4 linked regions of the Homo sapiens genome follow. The protein of the gene in region 1 interacts with the protein of each later gene in a pairwise test. Each region holds a gene or a part of one and is shown in the gene's direction. Other genes may lie near its edges.

Region 1 (3,500 bases):
ATCTTGTCTGAAGATGACTACTTATGTTTTTAAAAGTGCTCTTGAAATTGCATTTTTTTGCTTTACAGCTATATTGAGGTATAAGTTACTTATAAAAGTTACCCATTTTAATGGCTGGGTGTGGTGGCCCACGACTGTAATCCCAGCACTTTGGGAAGCGGAGGCAGGCGGATCACCTGAGGTCAGGAGTTCAAGACCAGCCTGGCCAACATGGCAAAACCCCATCTCTACTAAAAATGCAAAAATTAGCTGGGCGTGGTGGCTCACACCTGTAATCCCAGCTACTTGGGAGGCTGAGGCAGAATTGTTTGAACCCGGGAGGCGGAGGTTGCAGTGAGCCAAGATTGTGCCACTGCACTCCAGCCTGGGTGACAGAGTGAGACTCCATCTCAAAAAAACAAGTCACCCATTTTAATTAAGTGTAGTGTTCCATGAGTTTTAGTAAATGTATAGAATCATGCATCCACTATAATAGTCAAATTTTAGAATATTTCTATCACTCCCAAAAAATTCCCTTGTACCCATTTATGATCACCCCTGGCCCTAGACAACAATTAATAATCTGCTGCTGCTATTTTCTTTTCTAAGGTTTCATTTAAGTGAAATAAGACAATATATAGTCCTTTGTTGGATCTATCAGTGGGTGCATGTGTGTGTGTCTTGCTTTTTTGCTATAAATAATGCTATTCTGAACATTCACGTAAACTCTTTGGACATATGTTTTCATTTCTCTTGGATAGTTGCCTAGGAAAGAAATTGCTGAGTTGAGGCTCAAGCCTGTAATCCCAGCACTTTGGGAGGCCAAGGCAGGAGGATCACTTGAGTCCAGGAGTTTGAGACCAGCCTAGGCAACATAGCAAGACCTCATCTCTACAAAAAATAAAAATAAGTAAATAATAAAATAAAAAATTAGCCAGGCATGGTGGTGCACACCTTTAGTCTCAGCTACTTAGGAGGCTGAGATGGGAGGATCACTTGGGCCTGGGAGGTCAAGGCTTCAGTGAGCCAACATCCTACCACTGCACTTCAGCCTGGGTGACAGAGCAAGATCCTGTCTCTAAAAGAAGAGTTTGCTGGGTTGTATGTTAAATATATGTTTAAATTTTTAAAGAAACTGCCAAACTATTTTCTAAAGTGGCTGTACCATTTTGCATTACTACCGACAATGTATGAGGGTTGCTCCCCATCATTGCCAATGCTTACTTTATCAGTGATGTCTTAGTGTGTGGTTTTGCTTTGCATTTCTCTAATGACTACTAATGTTGAGCAAATTTCATGTACTCTAACTCTTTGTATATTTTCTTTTGTGAAGTATCATTTGCTCATATTTTATTGGGTTTGTCTTCACATTATTGACTTTTAAGAGTTCTTCTTATATTCTGGATATAGGTACTTTATTAGGTATATGTTTTGCAAATATTTTTCTCCCAATCTATGACTTGCCTTTTCTTCCCCCGACCCCTTTTTTTATTTTGGGTCTTTCTCTGTTACTCAGTGCCACTGAGGCTGGAGCGCAGTGGTATACTCATGGCTCACTTCAGCCTTCAACTCCTGGGCTCAAGCAATTCAATCACCCTAGCCTCCTGAGTAGCTGGGACTACGGGTGTGCGTCACCATACTTGGCTGTTTTTTATTGTTTTTTGTAGAGACTGAGTGGTTGCCCAGGCTGATCTCAAACTCCTGGTCCCAAGCGATCCTCCTGCTTCACCCTCCCAAAGCACTAGGATTACAGCACCCAGCCCCTTTTCATTTTCTTAAAGATATCTTTGATAAACAAAAGTTTTCAATTTTCATGAAGTCCAATGTATCTGTTTTTTTTTTTTTACAATTTATACTTCTCTGTCCTATCAAAAAAGTCTTCTAGCATTGAATTTTATGTTTTATACTTACATAAATACACTAGCTTTCTGTTTATTGCAGTCAAGCTGTATTAGTCGACAGGACCATTTACATTTCAGGACAGATAGGCATGGACCCTTCAAGTGGACAGCTTGTGTCAGGAGGGGTAGCAGAAGAAGCTAAACAAGTAAGTTATTTTCCACATTTAAGGTTCCCTTTTCTACTACCTTTTTAATGTTGAAGAGCATTAAGAATCCACTTGCCTGATTTGTTTTATAGAGATTAACAGATAAATGTTTTTTAAACTACTTACTGCTTGATTTAACATAGTTTTTGATCTAAGAGTTGGAAATTTGATGGATCATGAATCATCTAACAACCAAAAGAGAGATTCCACCTCCTTAACACTAAGGTGACCTTAAACCTGAATTATTGACGTCAGATGACATGTTGCCACTTCCACATGGATTGGGAAATTTTCTTCTCAGGGCCACTGACCTGCCCCTCTTCAAAAAAAAAAAAAAATTACCACCACAGAAGTAAAAAGTCAACATTTTTAAAAATAAGAATGGGGAATATAATTTTAATCCAATAAATATAATTAAACCATAATTTAGGCCAGGCACGATGTGGCTCACACCTGTAATCCTAGCACTTTGGGAGGCCGAGGCTGGCAGATCACTTGAGGTCAGGAGTTCAAGACTAGCCTAGACAACATGGTGAAACCCCATCTCTACTAAAAATACAAAAATTAGTTGGGGGAGGCCAGGCACAATGGCTCACACCTGTAATCCCAGCACTTTGGGAGGCCGAGGCGGGCAGATCACCTGAGGTCAGGAGTTCAAGACCAGCCTGGCCAACATGGTGAAACCCCGTCTCTACTGAAAATACAAAAATTAGCCAGGTGTGGTGGCATGTGCCTGTAGTCCCAGCTACTCGGGAGGCTAAGGCATGAGAATCGTTTGAACCCGGAAGGCGGAGGTTGCAGTGAGCTGAGATTGTGCCACTCCACTCTAGCCTGGGCAACAGAGCAAGAACCCTGTCTCAAAAAAAAAATAGAAAAAAAAAGTAACCCAGTCAGGTGGCACATGCCTGTAGTCCCAGTTACTCAGGAGGCTGATGCAGAAGAATCGCTTAAACCTGGGAGGTGGAAGTTGCAGGAAGCCAAGATCGTGCCACTGCACTCCTGCCTGGGACACAGAGCAAGACACTGTCTCAAAAAATAAAATAAAATAAAACAATAAACTATAATTTACTGCATTTACTGAGTCATATAATGCTGAAAGTTTGTTTTGTTTTGTTTTGTTTCTTGAGACAGCCTTGCTCTGTCGCCCAGGCTGGAGTGCAGTGTCGTGATCTCAGCTCACTGCAACCTCTGTCTTCCAGGTTCAAGCAATTCTCTTGCCTCAGCCTCCCAAGTAACTGGGACTACAGGCACACGCCACCACACCTGGCTTATTTTTTGTATTTTTAGTAGAGACGGGGTTTTACCGTGCTAGCCAGGATGGTCTCGATCTCCTGACCTCATGATCCACCCACCTCAGCCTCCCAAAGTGCTGAGATTACAGGCATGAGCCTCCACACCCGGCCTAGCTGAAAGATTTTTAAAAACCTAAATATCCACTCATAAAGAACTGGTTGAATAAATTATGCTAGATCAA
Region 2 (3,500 bases), on another chromosome or scaffold:
GAAGGGCCTGTCTGCATGCCAGGGGGCTGAGTTCCATGTTGTAGGGGGTGCGGTGGGGTGGCACCAAGGGACATAGGCAGGTTAGATGTACTTTTTAGGAGGAAGGGGTCAGAGACCAAGGGCAATGGCTGTGAGCATGGGGCCGAGGTCACCTGACGATGGTGGCCTGACCCCTGCGGTGGAGGAGAGGCAGGAATGGAGCTACAAGAGTGGGTCCAGGAGGTGTCCTCACCTGCGGGGAGGCCGAGAGCTCCTCGTAGGCATAGGGCACACCTGACCAGCAGAACCCACAGCTGTGCCGCAGAAGGAGATAGAAGCCCCGTGGTGGTTTGATAGAGCTGGGGCTGGCTGGGGTGGCGGGTTTGTTGTATGCATTTTTTACTGCACGTAAAAGGCTTTACTGGGGAAGAATAGATTTCCTCTCTTTTTCCTGGAAGAGCCGAATGACTTAGACAATGGAATAGAAATGTAGGTCGAGCGTGTTCATGGAAGTGTTAAGATCTTCCTGGTTACAAGGGCACACACCTGAGGGGGAGTCACTTTGTTTGAAGCACCTGAGCGAGGCTGTTCGCTTTGTCCATTCTGGCTTTTGTTGCTTGTTAAATGAGGCTCCTTCTGTTGCAGAGGTGACCACAGTGACAGTGGCCAACGTGGGGGCTGCTGCAGACAATGTCTTCACCACGTCTGTGGCGAACGCGGCATCCATCTCAGGACATGTTCTGGTAAGCTGCTCCGAGGGGCACAGCCCAGGGCGGGTGGTGCCACGCTGGGGGCCTCCGGCTTCCCCGAGGCTCTCCCGGGGTTCAGCCCGCTGTGTGAACGTCTGCTCTGTGAGCTGGGGAGGGACGCACTGGCTCGCTCTGCTCTCAGAGGCCTTCGGGCTGTGCTGGAGGTGGGAGAAATTACAGCTGAGGTAGAAGCTGCCTCGGAAGGCCAGGTGAAGAGCCACACCTGTCAGATGGGCTTGTGGCCTGCGTTGGGCAGGGACTCCCAGCAGGCTGCTGTCCGGCCACAGTTCAGCCTCTGCCCGAGGCCCGGCCCTGCCTGTGCTCCTTATCCTATAGCTGCAGGGCCAGCTGAAAGAAGCAAGGCGTTTCCCTCCCCCATATCCTGTTCTCGTAGCATTTATGGTGCAGTCTCCCACGCCTGACTGCTGTCTACTTAGAAAACTGCTGAAAGCCAGTTGCATTTCAAATAGTGTCTGTGCCACCTTCAGAGCCCTTTTGTGATCATGTTTTATCAGCTTATTTTATGTTTTATGTGTGGGGCCTTCGGCGATCTGGGGACATCTGGTCAACCAGGGCAGGCAACCTTGTTTCCAAGTGGCAGATGCCAGGGTGGGTCCAGTCTCCAGAAAGGGATTTTCCCTGGGACCATTGGCACCTGTTACTTGTAGTCTTTTCAGCCTTGGTCACATACCTGGGACATCATCTCCATATACCTGAAAGCAGAGTGGTTATTTGTTTGTTTTGTTTTTGAGACGGGGTCTTGCTCTGTCACCTAGACTGGAGTGCAGTGGTGCAATCTCGGCTCATTGCAACCTCCGCCTCCTGGGTTCAAGCCATTCTTGTGCCTCAGCCTCCTGAGTAGCTGGGATTACAGGCGTGTGCCACCATGCCAGGCTAATTTTTGTATTTTTAGTAGAGACAGGTCACCATGTTGTCCAGGCTGGCCTCAAACTCCTGACCTCAGGTGCCCGCCTTGACCTCCCAAAGTGCTGGGATTATAAGGATTATAGGTGTGAGCCACCACACCCGGCCTGAAAGCACAGTTATTGTTAGAATGGCAGCAAACAGAAAACTTGTGAAGGACTTCAGTAAAAACATAAGAAACTTGGAAACCCCCTCCCCTGCCCTCCCCTCCCCTGCCCTCCCCTCCCCTGCCCTCCCCTCCCCTGCCCTCCCCTGCCCTCTCCTCCCCTCCCCTCCCCTGCCCTCCCCTGCCCTCCCCTGCCCTGCCCTCCCCTCCCCTCCTCTCCCCTCCCCTCCCCTTCCTTTTTGACAGAGTCTTTCTCTGTTGCCCAAACTGGAGTGCAGTGGAGTGATCTCAACTCACTGCAACCTCCACCTCCTGGGTTCCCCATGTTGTCCAGGTAGTCTCAAACTCCTGACCTCAGGTAGCTACCATCTCGGCCTCCCAATGTGCTGGGATTACAGGCATGAGCCACCGCACCCAGCCCAGAAACTTGGCTTATTTCTGGTGGGTGTGAGAACACACACAAGCTGACCCATGGCCACGTGGCGATCTGTGTTTTCAGTCAGGCTGCTCCTTCCTGGCAGTGGGGTCTGGGCACCTCCTCATTTCCTAGGAGGGGCTGAAGCCCAAGGCACCTGTGGGTGCCTGGAACGTGCTGACGTCATGGAGCGGGGGTGTCCTGCAAGTGCCTGAGGCTGGTTTTCTCCCCTCCAGGCCAGGAAGACCAGAGACTGGTGTGTTCCTGTTTGGAAACTGACAACAAAGCGGGGCACGGTCTGAAATAACTGTGTGTTCCCTTCCTAAGAAAAATACTCTGTGACTCTTAAACAAACACAAGACATTCCTTTTCTCCAGTGAAGAGCTGCAGGTCTTTGGTGACTCAGGCACAGCAGTAGGACCCCCTGTGTGAGCCCAGGCGTCAGGCATGTGTGTTGGGGGTCCCTCCACTCCATGATAAACTTCTACTCAAGTGCTCTGATTTGACAGTGACATTTTCAGATGTAGGAAACAGTTGTCAGCTGGGCGCGGTGGCTCCTGCCTGTAATCCCAGCACTCTGGGAGGCCGAGATGGGCAGATCATGAGGTCAGAAGATGGAGACCATCCTGGCTAACACGGTGAAACCCCATCTCTACTAAAAAAAAAAATGCAAAAAATTAGCCTGGTGTGGTGGTGGGCGTGTGTAGTCCCAGCTACTTAGGAGGCTGAGGCAGGACAATAGCGTGAACCCGGGAGGCGGAGCTTGCAGTGAGCCGAGATGGCGCCACTGCACTCCAGCCTGGGTGACAGAACGAGTCTCCGTCTCAAAAAAAAAAAAAAAAAAAAAGAAAAAGAAAAAAAGAAACAGTTGTTTTCTCACTTTGCCTCGGTTGGTTTTGTATTCAGAATGAAAACCTTGGGGCACCCAAAACACGGGGTTCAGAGAGGCCCCTGGAAGTCTCTGGTCTGCCCCACCGTGGGGTGAACAGAGCCTGCAGGCCAGAGTTTGCCGGATGACTTGGCCAAGGTAGGGTTCAAGTTCCAGCAGTGGTGTGTGGGCATGGAGACTCTGGCTTCCTGTGGCGGGGTCTGTGCCGCCTGAAGGCTGATTTTGGAAGCAGGCAGCAGTTGCAGCAGCTTCAGCCAGTGTGGAAATGTGGTTTTGAGGCCCTGGTCTCCAGTTGCCATCTGTAAGGAGGTCTGGAGGGCGGTCCTGCACAAGGCCTTGTCTGTGGCGGCCAACTCGGTCTGTTGGAAACTCTGCATGAAGACGGTGACCTTGTGGGAGCGGCTCAGGTGGAAGGGAGGGTGTTTCTTGTTTGTGGAG
Region 3 (4,119 bases), on another chromosome or scaffold:
AGAATCAGCTTGCCTGGCTCTAAAATAAATCCTGCATAGGCAATTCTAATGGACATCCTGGCTAAGTATCACAGTTTAAATCAAATATTATTAACAATTCTAATAACACCTCCCATTCGTACTCTACCTACTTTTCAAAGCAGTTTCACTCTTTCACCCACCTGGCCTCCTTGGGGTTAGAAAGGACAGGAGTTAGACAATTCCGCACACGTACAAAGGAGCTTCAGACTGCTTCCAGCCCAGCCCCAGATTCCAGCCAGACCTTCCCTTGACGGCCCAGGCCTCGCCCTGAGGGCACCTCGGGTTCCAGCTACCTCCGGGCCCCCAGGACCACCGCTTCCCCCGCCCCACGCCAACCCCTAGATCTGCCTCGCCCCCGCCTGAAGAGTCGGATCTGAACCAGGCCGGCACCACGGAGATTCCCCTGCGGGCCGCCCGACGCCTGGTAGGTGGTGGGCTCTTCCCGGCTGCCCCGAACACTTTCCTCTGTCCAGCTCTTCCCGTGCCCCGGGGCTGGGGAAAGCGTCCGGCAGCCCCGCCGCTCCCTGGCCCCGTCCCAGGAGCCACCCCACCGTAGGGCTCCAGCCAGGGTCCAGGCGTGCAGGCGGCAGAAGGTGGACGGGACGCGCCAGCCCCAGGCCTCTCCTCCCGCTCTCCAGCCGTTTTTCTGGGGAGAAACACCTGCACCCAGCTGTCCCTCCCTCCTACGTGAGTCCTCCTGGAAACCAGGTTGGAGGAAGAAAGACGTCCTGTGGACAGGACGGGGTGGGGGCATGGCCCTGGGGACTCCTCGTGACAGAGGGTCCTGCGGCAAGAGGGTCTCCCGGGCCGCGGAGGCCCTGCCTCACCTGCAGTCCTCCGGGAGCCCGCGGCCGAGCAGAGCGGACACTAGCTGACCCCGAGCAGGGGAGCGACGGGAGGGCGGAGACGGCAGATGCACGGGTGGGGGCTGCGGCCCCGCCCAGGCTGCGCGGTTTCCCGAAACCAGCTGCGGCCCGGGGGCCCGGCAAAGGGGGTTCCGCCCGGAGGAGCGGACCGGGCGGGAGAAGACCGAGCCCCCGCGCGCCCCCTGCGCTCCCACTCGCGCACACTTGCACGCCGGCCCTGGCCGGGCGGGGCTGGAGGCGAGAACGACCCCACGGGCTTTCCCAGGGCCGTCCGCCCGCGGACCCTCCCAGCTCCCCAGAGCCCAGTGACCCTCGCGCAGCAGGAGAACCCCAGACGGACCCCAGGCCCTGCAGCCTGTCATGAACCCGAGGGGCTGAAGTTCAGCCCCACCCCCGCCTCCCCTCCCCGCCTCCCCCTCCAACTCTCAACCCACTTCTCCAGCCAGCGCCCCAGCCCTCCCGCCGCCCGCTCGCAGGTCCCGAGGAGCGCAGGTGAGGCGGCACCCCACTCCCGGCGGCCCCCGGGCCTCCTTCCGCACGCACCCCGAGCTGCCTCCGCACAGTTGGAGGAGCGTAGGAGGGACCCCCACCCAGGGATGACACTCCAGGAAGGGGACTGCAGAGGAAGCCAGGTGCGGCCCCGGCTTTTGACCTACCTCCGCACCGCAGCGCGGTCCTTCACGGGGCAGGGGCGGCGTGAACCCGTCGGGCGTGAGCAGCAGTCGGTGGAGCGGGAGGTCGGCGGTGGCGGGGATGGGGGTATCCGGAGCGCAGCCGGGGCGCAGCTGCTGGCACAGGAGCTCCACAGGCAGCCAAGGACTCGGTCCTGTCCCAGAGCCTGCGGACTGTGGAGGGGAGGCCGCAGGAAGAGCCCGGGAGGAGGGGGTGAGGGGTCGAGGTGTGGGGCGCTGCTTGACCCAGACGCCAGGGCCCTGGGAGGAGGATGAGGGGGACAGAGCAGATCTTGGGCGAAAGGGGAGGTTCCCGCAGGCTCTGTAGTCGCCGCAGTTCCAGCATGGTCAGCACCCCCTCTGCTACACACATTCCCCTCGTGAGGGGCCAGGGGTGCGGCCCTGTGACCAGGACAGCCATTCATTGGGTGACTTTGAGCCACCACTGGCCCCTGACCTCCCCAACTCCAATGAAATCTGCGAAAATCTTCTGACAGCCGTTCCTCTCTGGTGCTCCCTTCCTCATAGACTGTGTCCCTGACAATGGGAACAGCCGACAGTGATGAGATGGCCCCGGAGGCCCCACAGCACACCCACATCGATGTGCACATCCACCAGGAGTCTGCCCTGGCCAAGCTCCTGCTCACCTGCTGCTCTGCGCTGCGGCCCCGGGCCACCCAGGCCAGGGGCAGCAGCCGGCTGCTGGTGGCCTCGTGGGTGAGTGTGACGGCCTGCCTCGTCGGGCGGCGGGAGGAACTCCCCACCTCCAGCCGCAGCAGCACTCTCTGCCAGCCTCCCTCTGAACAGGACACCGAGCCAGTTATGTCTTCTTACTTAGCGATGTGATTCTCTGGCCTTCTCAGTAAGAGCCTGGGGAGGGGAGGCTCTGGGCTGAAGGGGTGTGGAGGAGCCACTGACCATGCAGAGTCCCAATCAGTGGAGCCCTGAGTCCATCCTTTCCTCTGGGCCAAACTCAGGATGGGCCGGCTCTCCTCTCCTTCCTTTCCCTTCTCTTTTCTCCTCCTCCTGCCTCTTCTTCTTTCTCCTTCTCCTCCTCTTTCTTCTCCTTTTCTCTTCTCTTCTCTTCTCTTCTCTTCTTTCTTTCTCTCTCTCTCTACCTCTCCCTCTCTTTTTGGGGTTTTAGCGGTTAATCCCTGCAGTGGCAGGTCCACCTAGGAGCCGGGATCTTGGGTCCTTTGTCTTTCAGGTGATGCAGATCGTGCTGGGGATCTTGAGTGCAGTCCTAGGAGGATTTTTCTACATCCGCGACTACACCCTCCTCGTCACCTCGGGAGCTGCCATCTGGACAGGGGCTGTGGTGAGTAGAGCAGGACAGTGCTTGACTGCCTGTGAGAGGGGTGGGGCATTGCTCTCCTGATTGCCTTCCTCCAACATGGCGCCACAGAATGCTGGCAGTCGGAGAGATCTGATTATCTAGGACCATTCCCTGCCTGTTCAGATGAGCAAACAGCTGAGGGCGGTGGTGGCATGTCCTATTCACACTGTCTGCTCTCCCATACCCTTCCCAGTGCTGTTCCCACCAGGCTGGCTGCCTCTCCCTGCCTTCAACAGTTAATGTCAACTAAGGATCTAAGGACCTGCTCATCTCCAGATACTTGCATTGAGATGGGGAAGGCAGAGCGTTCCAGATAGTATGTGGTCCCCCAGGAAGCATCACCCCCTGGTTATTCTCATTGTCCTCCACAGGCCCTGTACACAATGGAAACCCAGGAATTGTTGTCAACAGATGGGTGTGTGCAGTTTGCACAGGAGCTGGGTAGGCTGGTCATGGTACCTACACTCTCAGAATAGCACTAAAACACTCATATTTACTGACAGAAGCCGAGAGTAATTACCTTCACCCAGCCTGTGGCAAAATACCCAGCTTAATTACAGAATTAGCCAAACAGGATTCAGGTCCACCTGTCCACTGGGACATACTAGATTTCCTGTTCTTCAAGCCCAGCTGAGTGGATTATTGGGCACTGTTAGGACAGGCTTCTAGACCTAACAGTGCCCACTCTGTATAGACTCACCCTTCATTGAGATCTTCTCCAGCACCCCATGACTTTTATCCACAGGATCCCACCATCCCTAGAACTTTCATAAAGCACTTGGTGTTGTTTAAAAAGGAAGGTTTAGAAGGGAAGAGGGGCTCACACCTGGCTTGACCACAAGCTCTTAGGTGTCACTAAAGCAGGGCCTTTTGCAGCCTCAGGAGTTGGATCCAGGCTCCACCCTCTCAGCAATTATCTTACCATGGATAATAAAGCTTAGCATGAAACCTCCCGCCCAAGCTGTGTGCTGGGGAAGGGCCTGCATGGAGGCTCTCTCGTGGGAGAGGAGTTGCATTTCCTGTACTAAGCCTGCTCCTGGCTCAATCTCTCCCCAGGCTGTGCTGGCTGGAGCTGCTGCCTTCATTTACGAGAAACGGGGTGGTACATACTGGGTAAGTTCAGGGAAGGGCATGGGAGGGGACCAGGTTCAGGCTGGAGGTCACCCCAATCTCCTGCCCTGTTGCAGGCTTCTCTGGGCCTTGCCCTTTTTTCCCCCGACTGGAC
Region 4 (3,125 bases), on another chromosome or scaffold:
AAGACCGAAGGCCCACAGCGGATCAGCGCCAAGATCAGCCAGATCCCCCCGGCCAGTGCAATGGACATTGAATTTCAGCAGTCAGTGTCCAAGTCCCAGGTCAAACCTGATTCTGTCACAGCATCGCAGCCTCCATCCAAAGGCCCTCAAGCTCCTGCAGGCTATGCGAACGTGGCCACCCATTCCACGTTGGTACTGACCGCCCAGACATATAATGCCTCTCCTGTGATTTCGTCTGTGAAGGCCGATAGGCCATCCTTGGAGAAGCCCGAGCCCATTCACCTCTCGGTGTCCACGCCTGTCACCCAGGGAGGCACAGTGAAGGTTCTCACCCAGGGGATCAACACACCCCCTGTGCTGGTTCACAACCAGCTGGTCCTCACCCCAAGCATTGTCACCACAAACAAGAAGCTTGCTGACCCCGTCACCCTTAAAATCGAGACCAAGGTCCTTCAGCCGGCCAACCTGGGGTCCACGCTCACGCCCCACCACCCTCCTGCTCTGCCCAGCAAACTGCCTACAGAAGTCAACCATGTCCCCTCGGGGCCCAGCATCCCAGCAGATCGAACTGTCTCCCATTTGGCAGCTGCAAAGCTAGATGCTCATTCTCCTCGACCAAGTGGACCCGGGCCATCCTCATTCCCAAGGGCAAGCCACCCCAGCAGTACTGCATCTACGGCGCTCTCCACCAACGCCACAGTCATGCTGGCTGCAGGCATCCCAGTGCCCCAGTTCATCTCCAGCATCCACCCAGAGCAGTCTGTCATCATGCCACCCCACAGCATCACCCAGACTGTGTCCCTGAGCCACCTCTCCCAGGGCGAGGTGAGAATGAACACTCCCACGCTGCCCAGTATCACCTACAGCATCCGGCCAGAAGCGCTTCACTCTCCTCGGGCTCCGCTGCAGCCCCAGCAAATAGAGGTCAGGGCCCCACAGCGTGCCAGCACCCCGCAGCCAGCCCCAGCTGGTGTGCCTGCACTGGCCTCCCAGCACCCTCCCGAGGAGGAAGTGCATTATCACCTTCCTGTCGCTCGAGCCACAGCCCCTGTGCAGTCAGAGGTACTAGTCATGCAGTCTGAGTACCGACTGCACCCCTATACTGTGCCACGGGATGTGAGGATCATGGTGCATCCACATGTGACGGCAGTCAGCGAGCAGCCCAGGGCCGCGGATGGGGTGGTGAAGGTGCCACCAGCCAGCAAGGCCCCTCAGCAGCCAGGGAAGGAAGCTGCCAAGACACCAGATGCCAAAGCTGCCCCCACCCCCACCCCTGCCCCCGTCCCTGTCCCTGTCCCCCTTCCTGCCCCTGCTCCTGCCCCTCATGGTGAGGCCCGTATCCTCACAGTTACCCCCAGTAACCAACTCCAGGGGCTGCCTCTGACCCCTCCTGTGGTGGTGACCCATGGGGTGCAGATTGTGCACTCCAGCGGGGAGCTGTTTCAAGAGTACCGGTACGGCGACATCCGCACCTACCACCCCCCGGCCCAGCTCACACACACTCAGTTTCCCGCCGCTTCCTCTGTTGGCCTGCCTTCCCGGACCAAGACAGCTGCTCAGGTGAGCCAGCCAGGTATCTCCCCACTGTCTGTTGGGCATGTGCTTGTGGGGCTCAGCAGGCTTTTAAGCCAAGATGTGTGAAAGAAATCAGGGGCCAGGTGTGGTGGCTTATGCCTGTAATCCCAGCACTGTGGGAGGCCCAGATGGGAGGACTGCTTAAGCCCGGGAGTTCGAGACCAGCCTGGGCAACATGGCAAAACCCCATCTCGTACAAAAAAAAAAAATTACAAAAATTAGCCAGGTGTGGTGGCACACACCTGTGGTTTCAGCTACCTGGGAGGCTGAGGTGGGAAAATTGCTTGAGCCCTGGAGGCAGAGGTTGCATTGAACCAAGGTCGTGCCACTAGGCTCCAGTGACAGAGCGAGACCCAGTCTCAAAAAAAAAAAAAGCCGGGCATAGTGGCTCACGCCTGTAATCCCAACACTTTGGGAGGCCAGGGCTGGCAGATCACTTGAGGTCAGGAGTTCAAGACCAGCTTGGCCAACATGGTGAAACTCTGTCCCTACTTAAAGAAAAAGAAATCCGCCTTTTGGTAAAGATAGTGGTTGAGTACAAGTGAACTGGTCAGCTAGTCCCTAAAGATGTTGATCTTTTCATGAGTTTAAAGAGCTTTCTTAGTTCTGAGATGAAAGTATTAGATCACATCATGGGGAGTTCTGCATATGGGGAGGGAGCTCTTGCTGGGTAGCATCAGCAGGAGGCAGGTAATAGGGGATCTCTCCTTACCTGGAACCCCGAAAGCAGCTCCGTTGATTCAGGCTCCTTCTGTGGGCCTGACTTAACGGGAGATGCCACATCTTATCCTTTCCCTGTGGCCCTTTGGGTCATTTGTTGGTCTCAGGGGCTTGTGCACAACAGACTGACTCTGTCCCTTTGCCTTCCTTCCCTACACCAGGGCCCTCCTCCTGAAGGTGAGCCCCTGCAGCCTCCTCAGCCTGTGCAGTCCACACAGCCTGCCCAGCCTGCACCACCCTGCCCGCCCTCCCAGCTCGGTCAGCCCGGCCAGCCACCAAGCAGCAAGATGCCTCAAGTGTCCCAGGAGGCAAAGGGGACCCAGACGGGAGTAGAGCAGCCTCGCCTCCCAGCTGGACCTGCAAACAGGCCACCTGAGCCTCACACCCAGGTTCAGAGGGCACAAGCAGAAACAGGCCCGACTTCCTTCCCCTCCCCTGTGTCTGTCTCCATGAAGCCTGACCTTCCAGTCTCTCTTCCCACTCAGACTGCCCCAAAACAGCCGTTGTTTGTCCCAACAACCTCTGGCCCCAGCACCCCACCAGGACTGGTTCTGCCACACACTGAATTCCAGCCAGCCCCCAAACAAGATTCCTCTCCACACCTGACTTCCCAGAGACCCGTGGATATGGTTCAACTTCTGAAGGTAAGCATGAGCAGGGGCTGCCCTTCCTGGCCCCCAAGTTTTATGCCATGTCAAATGTCCTAAGATTCCCTAGTTAACAGACCCACAAGCTACAGCCTCTGGCTGTGTCCAGCATGGCTCAGCGAGGGGCCATGAGCTCACTTCCTGTTTGTTTCCCTGTGAGCAGAAGTACCCCATCGTGTGGCA

The links. Proteins that work in one complex are often made in the same cells at the same time.
Region 2: the proteins of RIDA (region 1) and DEAF1 interact in a two-hybrid assay, tested with the Homo sapiens proteins (one large-scale study listed by BioGRID and IntAct).
Region 3: the proteins of RIDA (region 1) and TMEM176A interact in a two-hybrid assay, tested with the Homo sapiens proteins (one large-scale study listed by BioGRID and IntAct).
Region 4: the proteins of RIDA (region 1) and SPEN interact in a two-hybrid assay, tested with the Homo sapiens proteins (one large-scale study listed by BioGRID and IntAct).

What each region holds. Positions count from the first base shown.
Region 1 is NC_000008.11:98,107,172-98,110,671, reverse strand, and holds part of RIDA (2-iminobutanoate/2-iminopropanoate deaminase), read left to right. Parts: intron 1-1,920; coding exon 1,921-2,026; intron 2,027-3,500. UniProt on the Homo sapiens protein: Catalyzes the hydrolytic deamination of enamine/imine intermediates that form during the course of normal metabolism. May facilitate the release of ammonia from these potentially toxic reactive metabolites, reducing their impact on cellular components.
Region 2 is NC_000011.10:688,723-692,222, reverse strand, and holds part of DEAF1 (deformed epidermal autoregulatory factor 1 homolog), read left to right. Parts: intron 1-624; coding exon 625-722; intron 723-3,500. UniProt on the Homo sapiens protein: Transcription factor that binds to sequence with multiple copies of 5'-TTC[CG]G-3' present in its own promoter and that of the HNRPA2B1 gene. Down-regulates transcription of these genes.
Region 3 is NC_000007.14:150,799,450-150,803,568, forward strand, and holds the start of TMEM176A (transmembrane protein 176A), read left to right. Parts: upstream 1-1,319; 5' UTR 1,320-1,379; exon of another isoform or gene 1,380-1,483; coding exon of another isoform or gene 1,484-1,519; intron 1,520-1,543; exon of another isoform or gene 1,544-1,911; intron 1,912-2,086; coding exon of another isoform or gene 2,087-2,101; coding exon 2,102-2,275; intron 2,276-2,765; coding exon 2,766-2,876; intron 2,877-3,265; coding exon of another isoform or gene 3,266-3,370; exon of another isoform or gene 3,371-3,950; coding exon 3,951-4,007; intron 4,008-4,119. Other genes in the region: TMEM176B (transmembrane protein 176B), read right to left, coding at 162-169, 573-775.
Region 4 is NC_000001.11:15,934,707-15,937,831, forward strand, and holds part of SPEN (msx2-interacting protein), read left to right. Parts: coding exon 1-1,560; intron 1,561-2,456; coding exon 2,457-2,939; intron 2,940-3,105; coding exon 3,106-3,125. UniProt on the Homo sapiens protein: May serve as a nuclear matrix platform that organizes and integrates transcriptional responses. In osteoblasts, supports transcription activation: synergizes with RUNX2 to enhance FGFR2-mediated activation of the osteocalcin FGF-responsive element (OCFRE).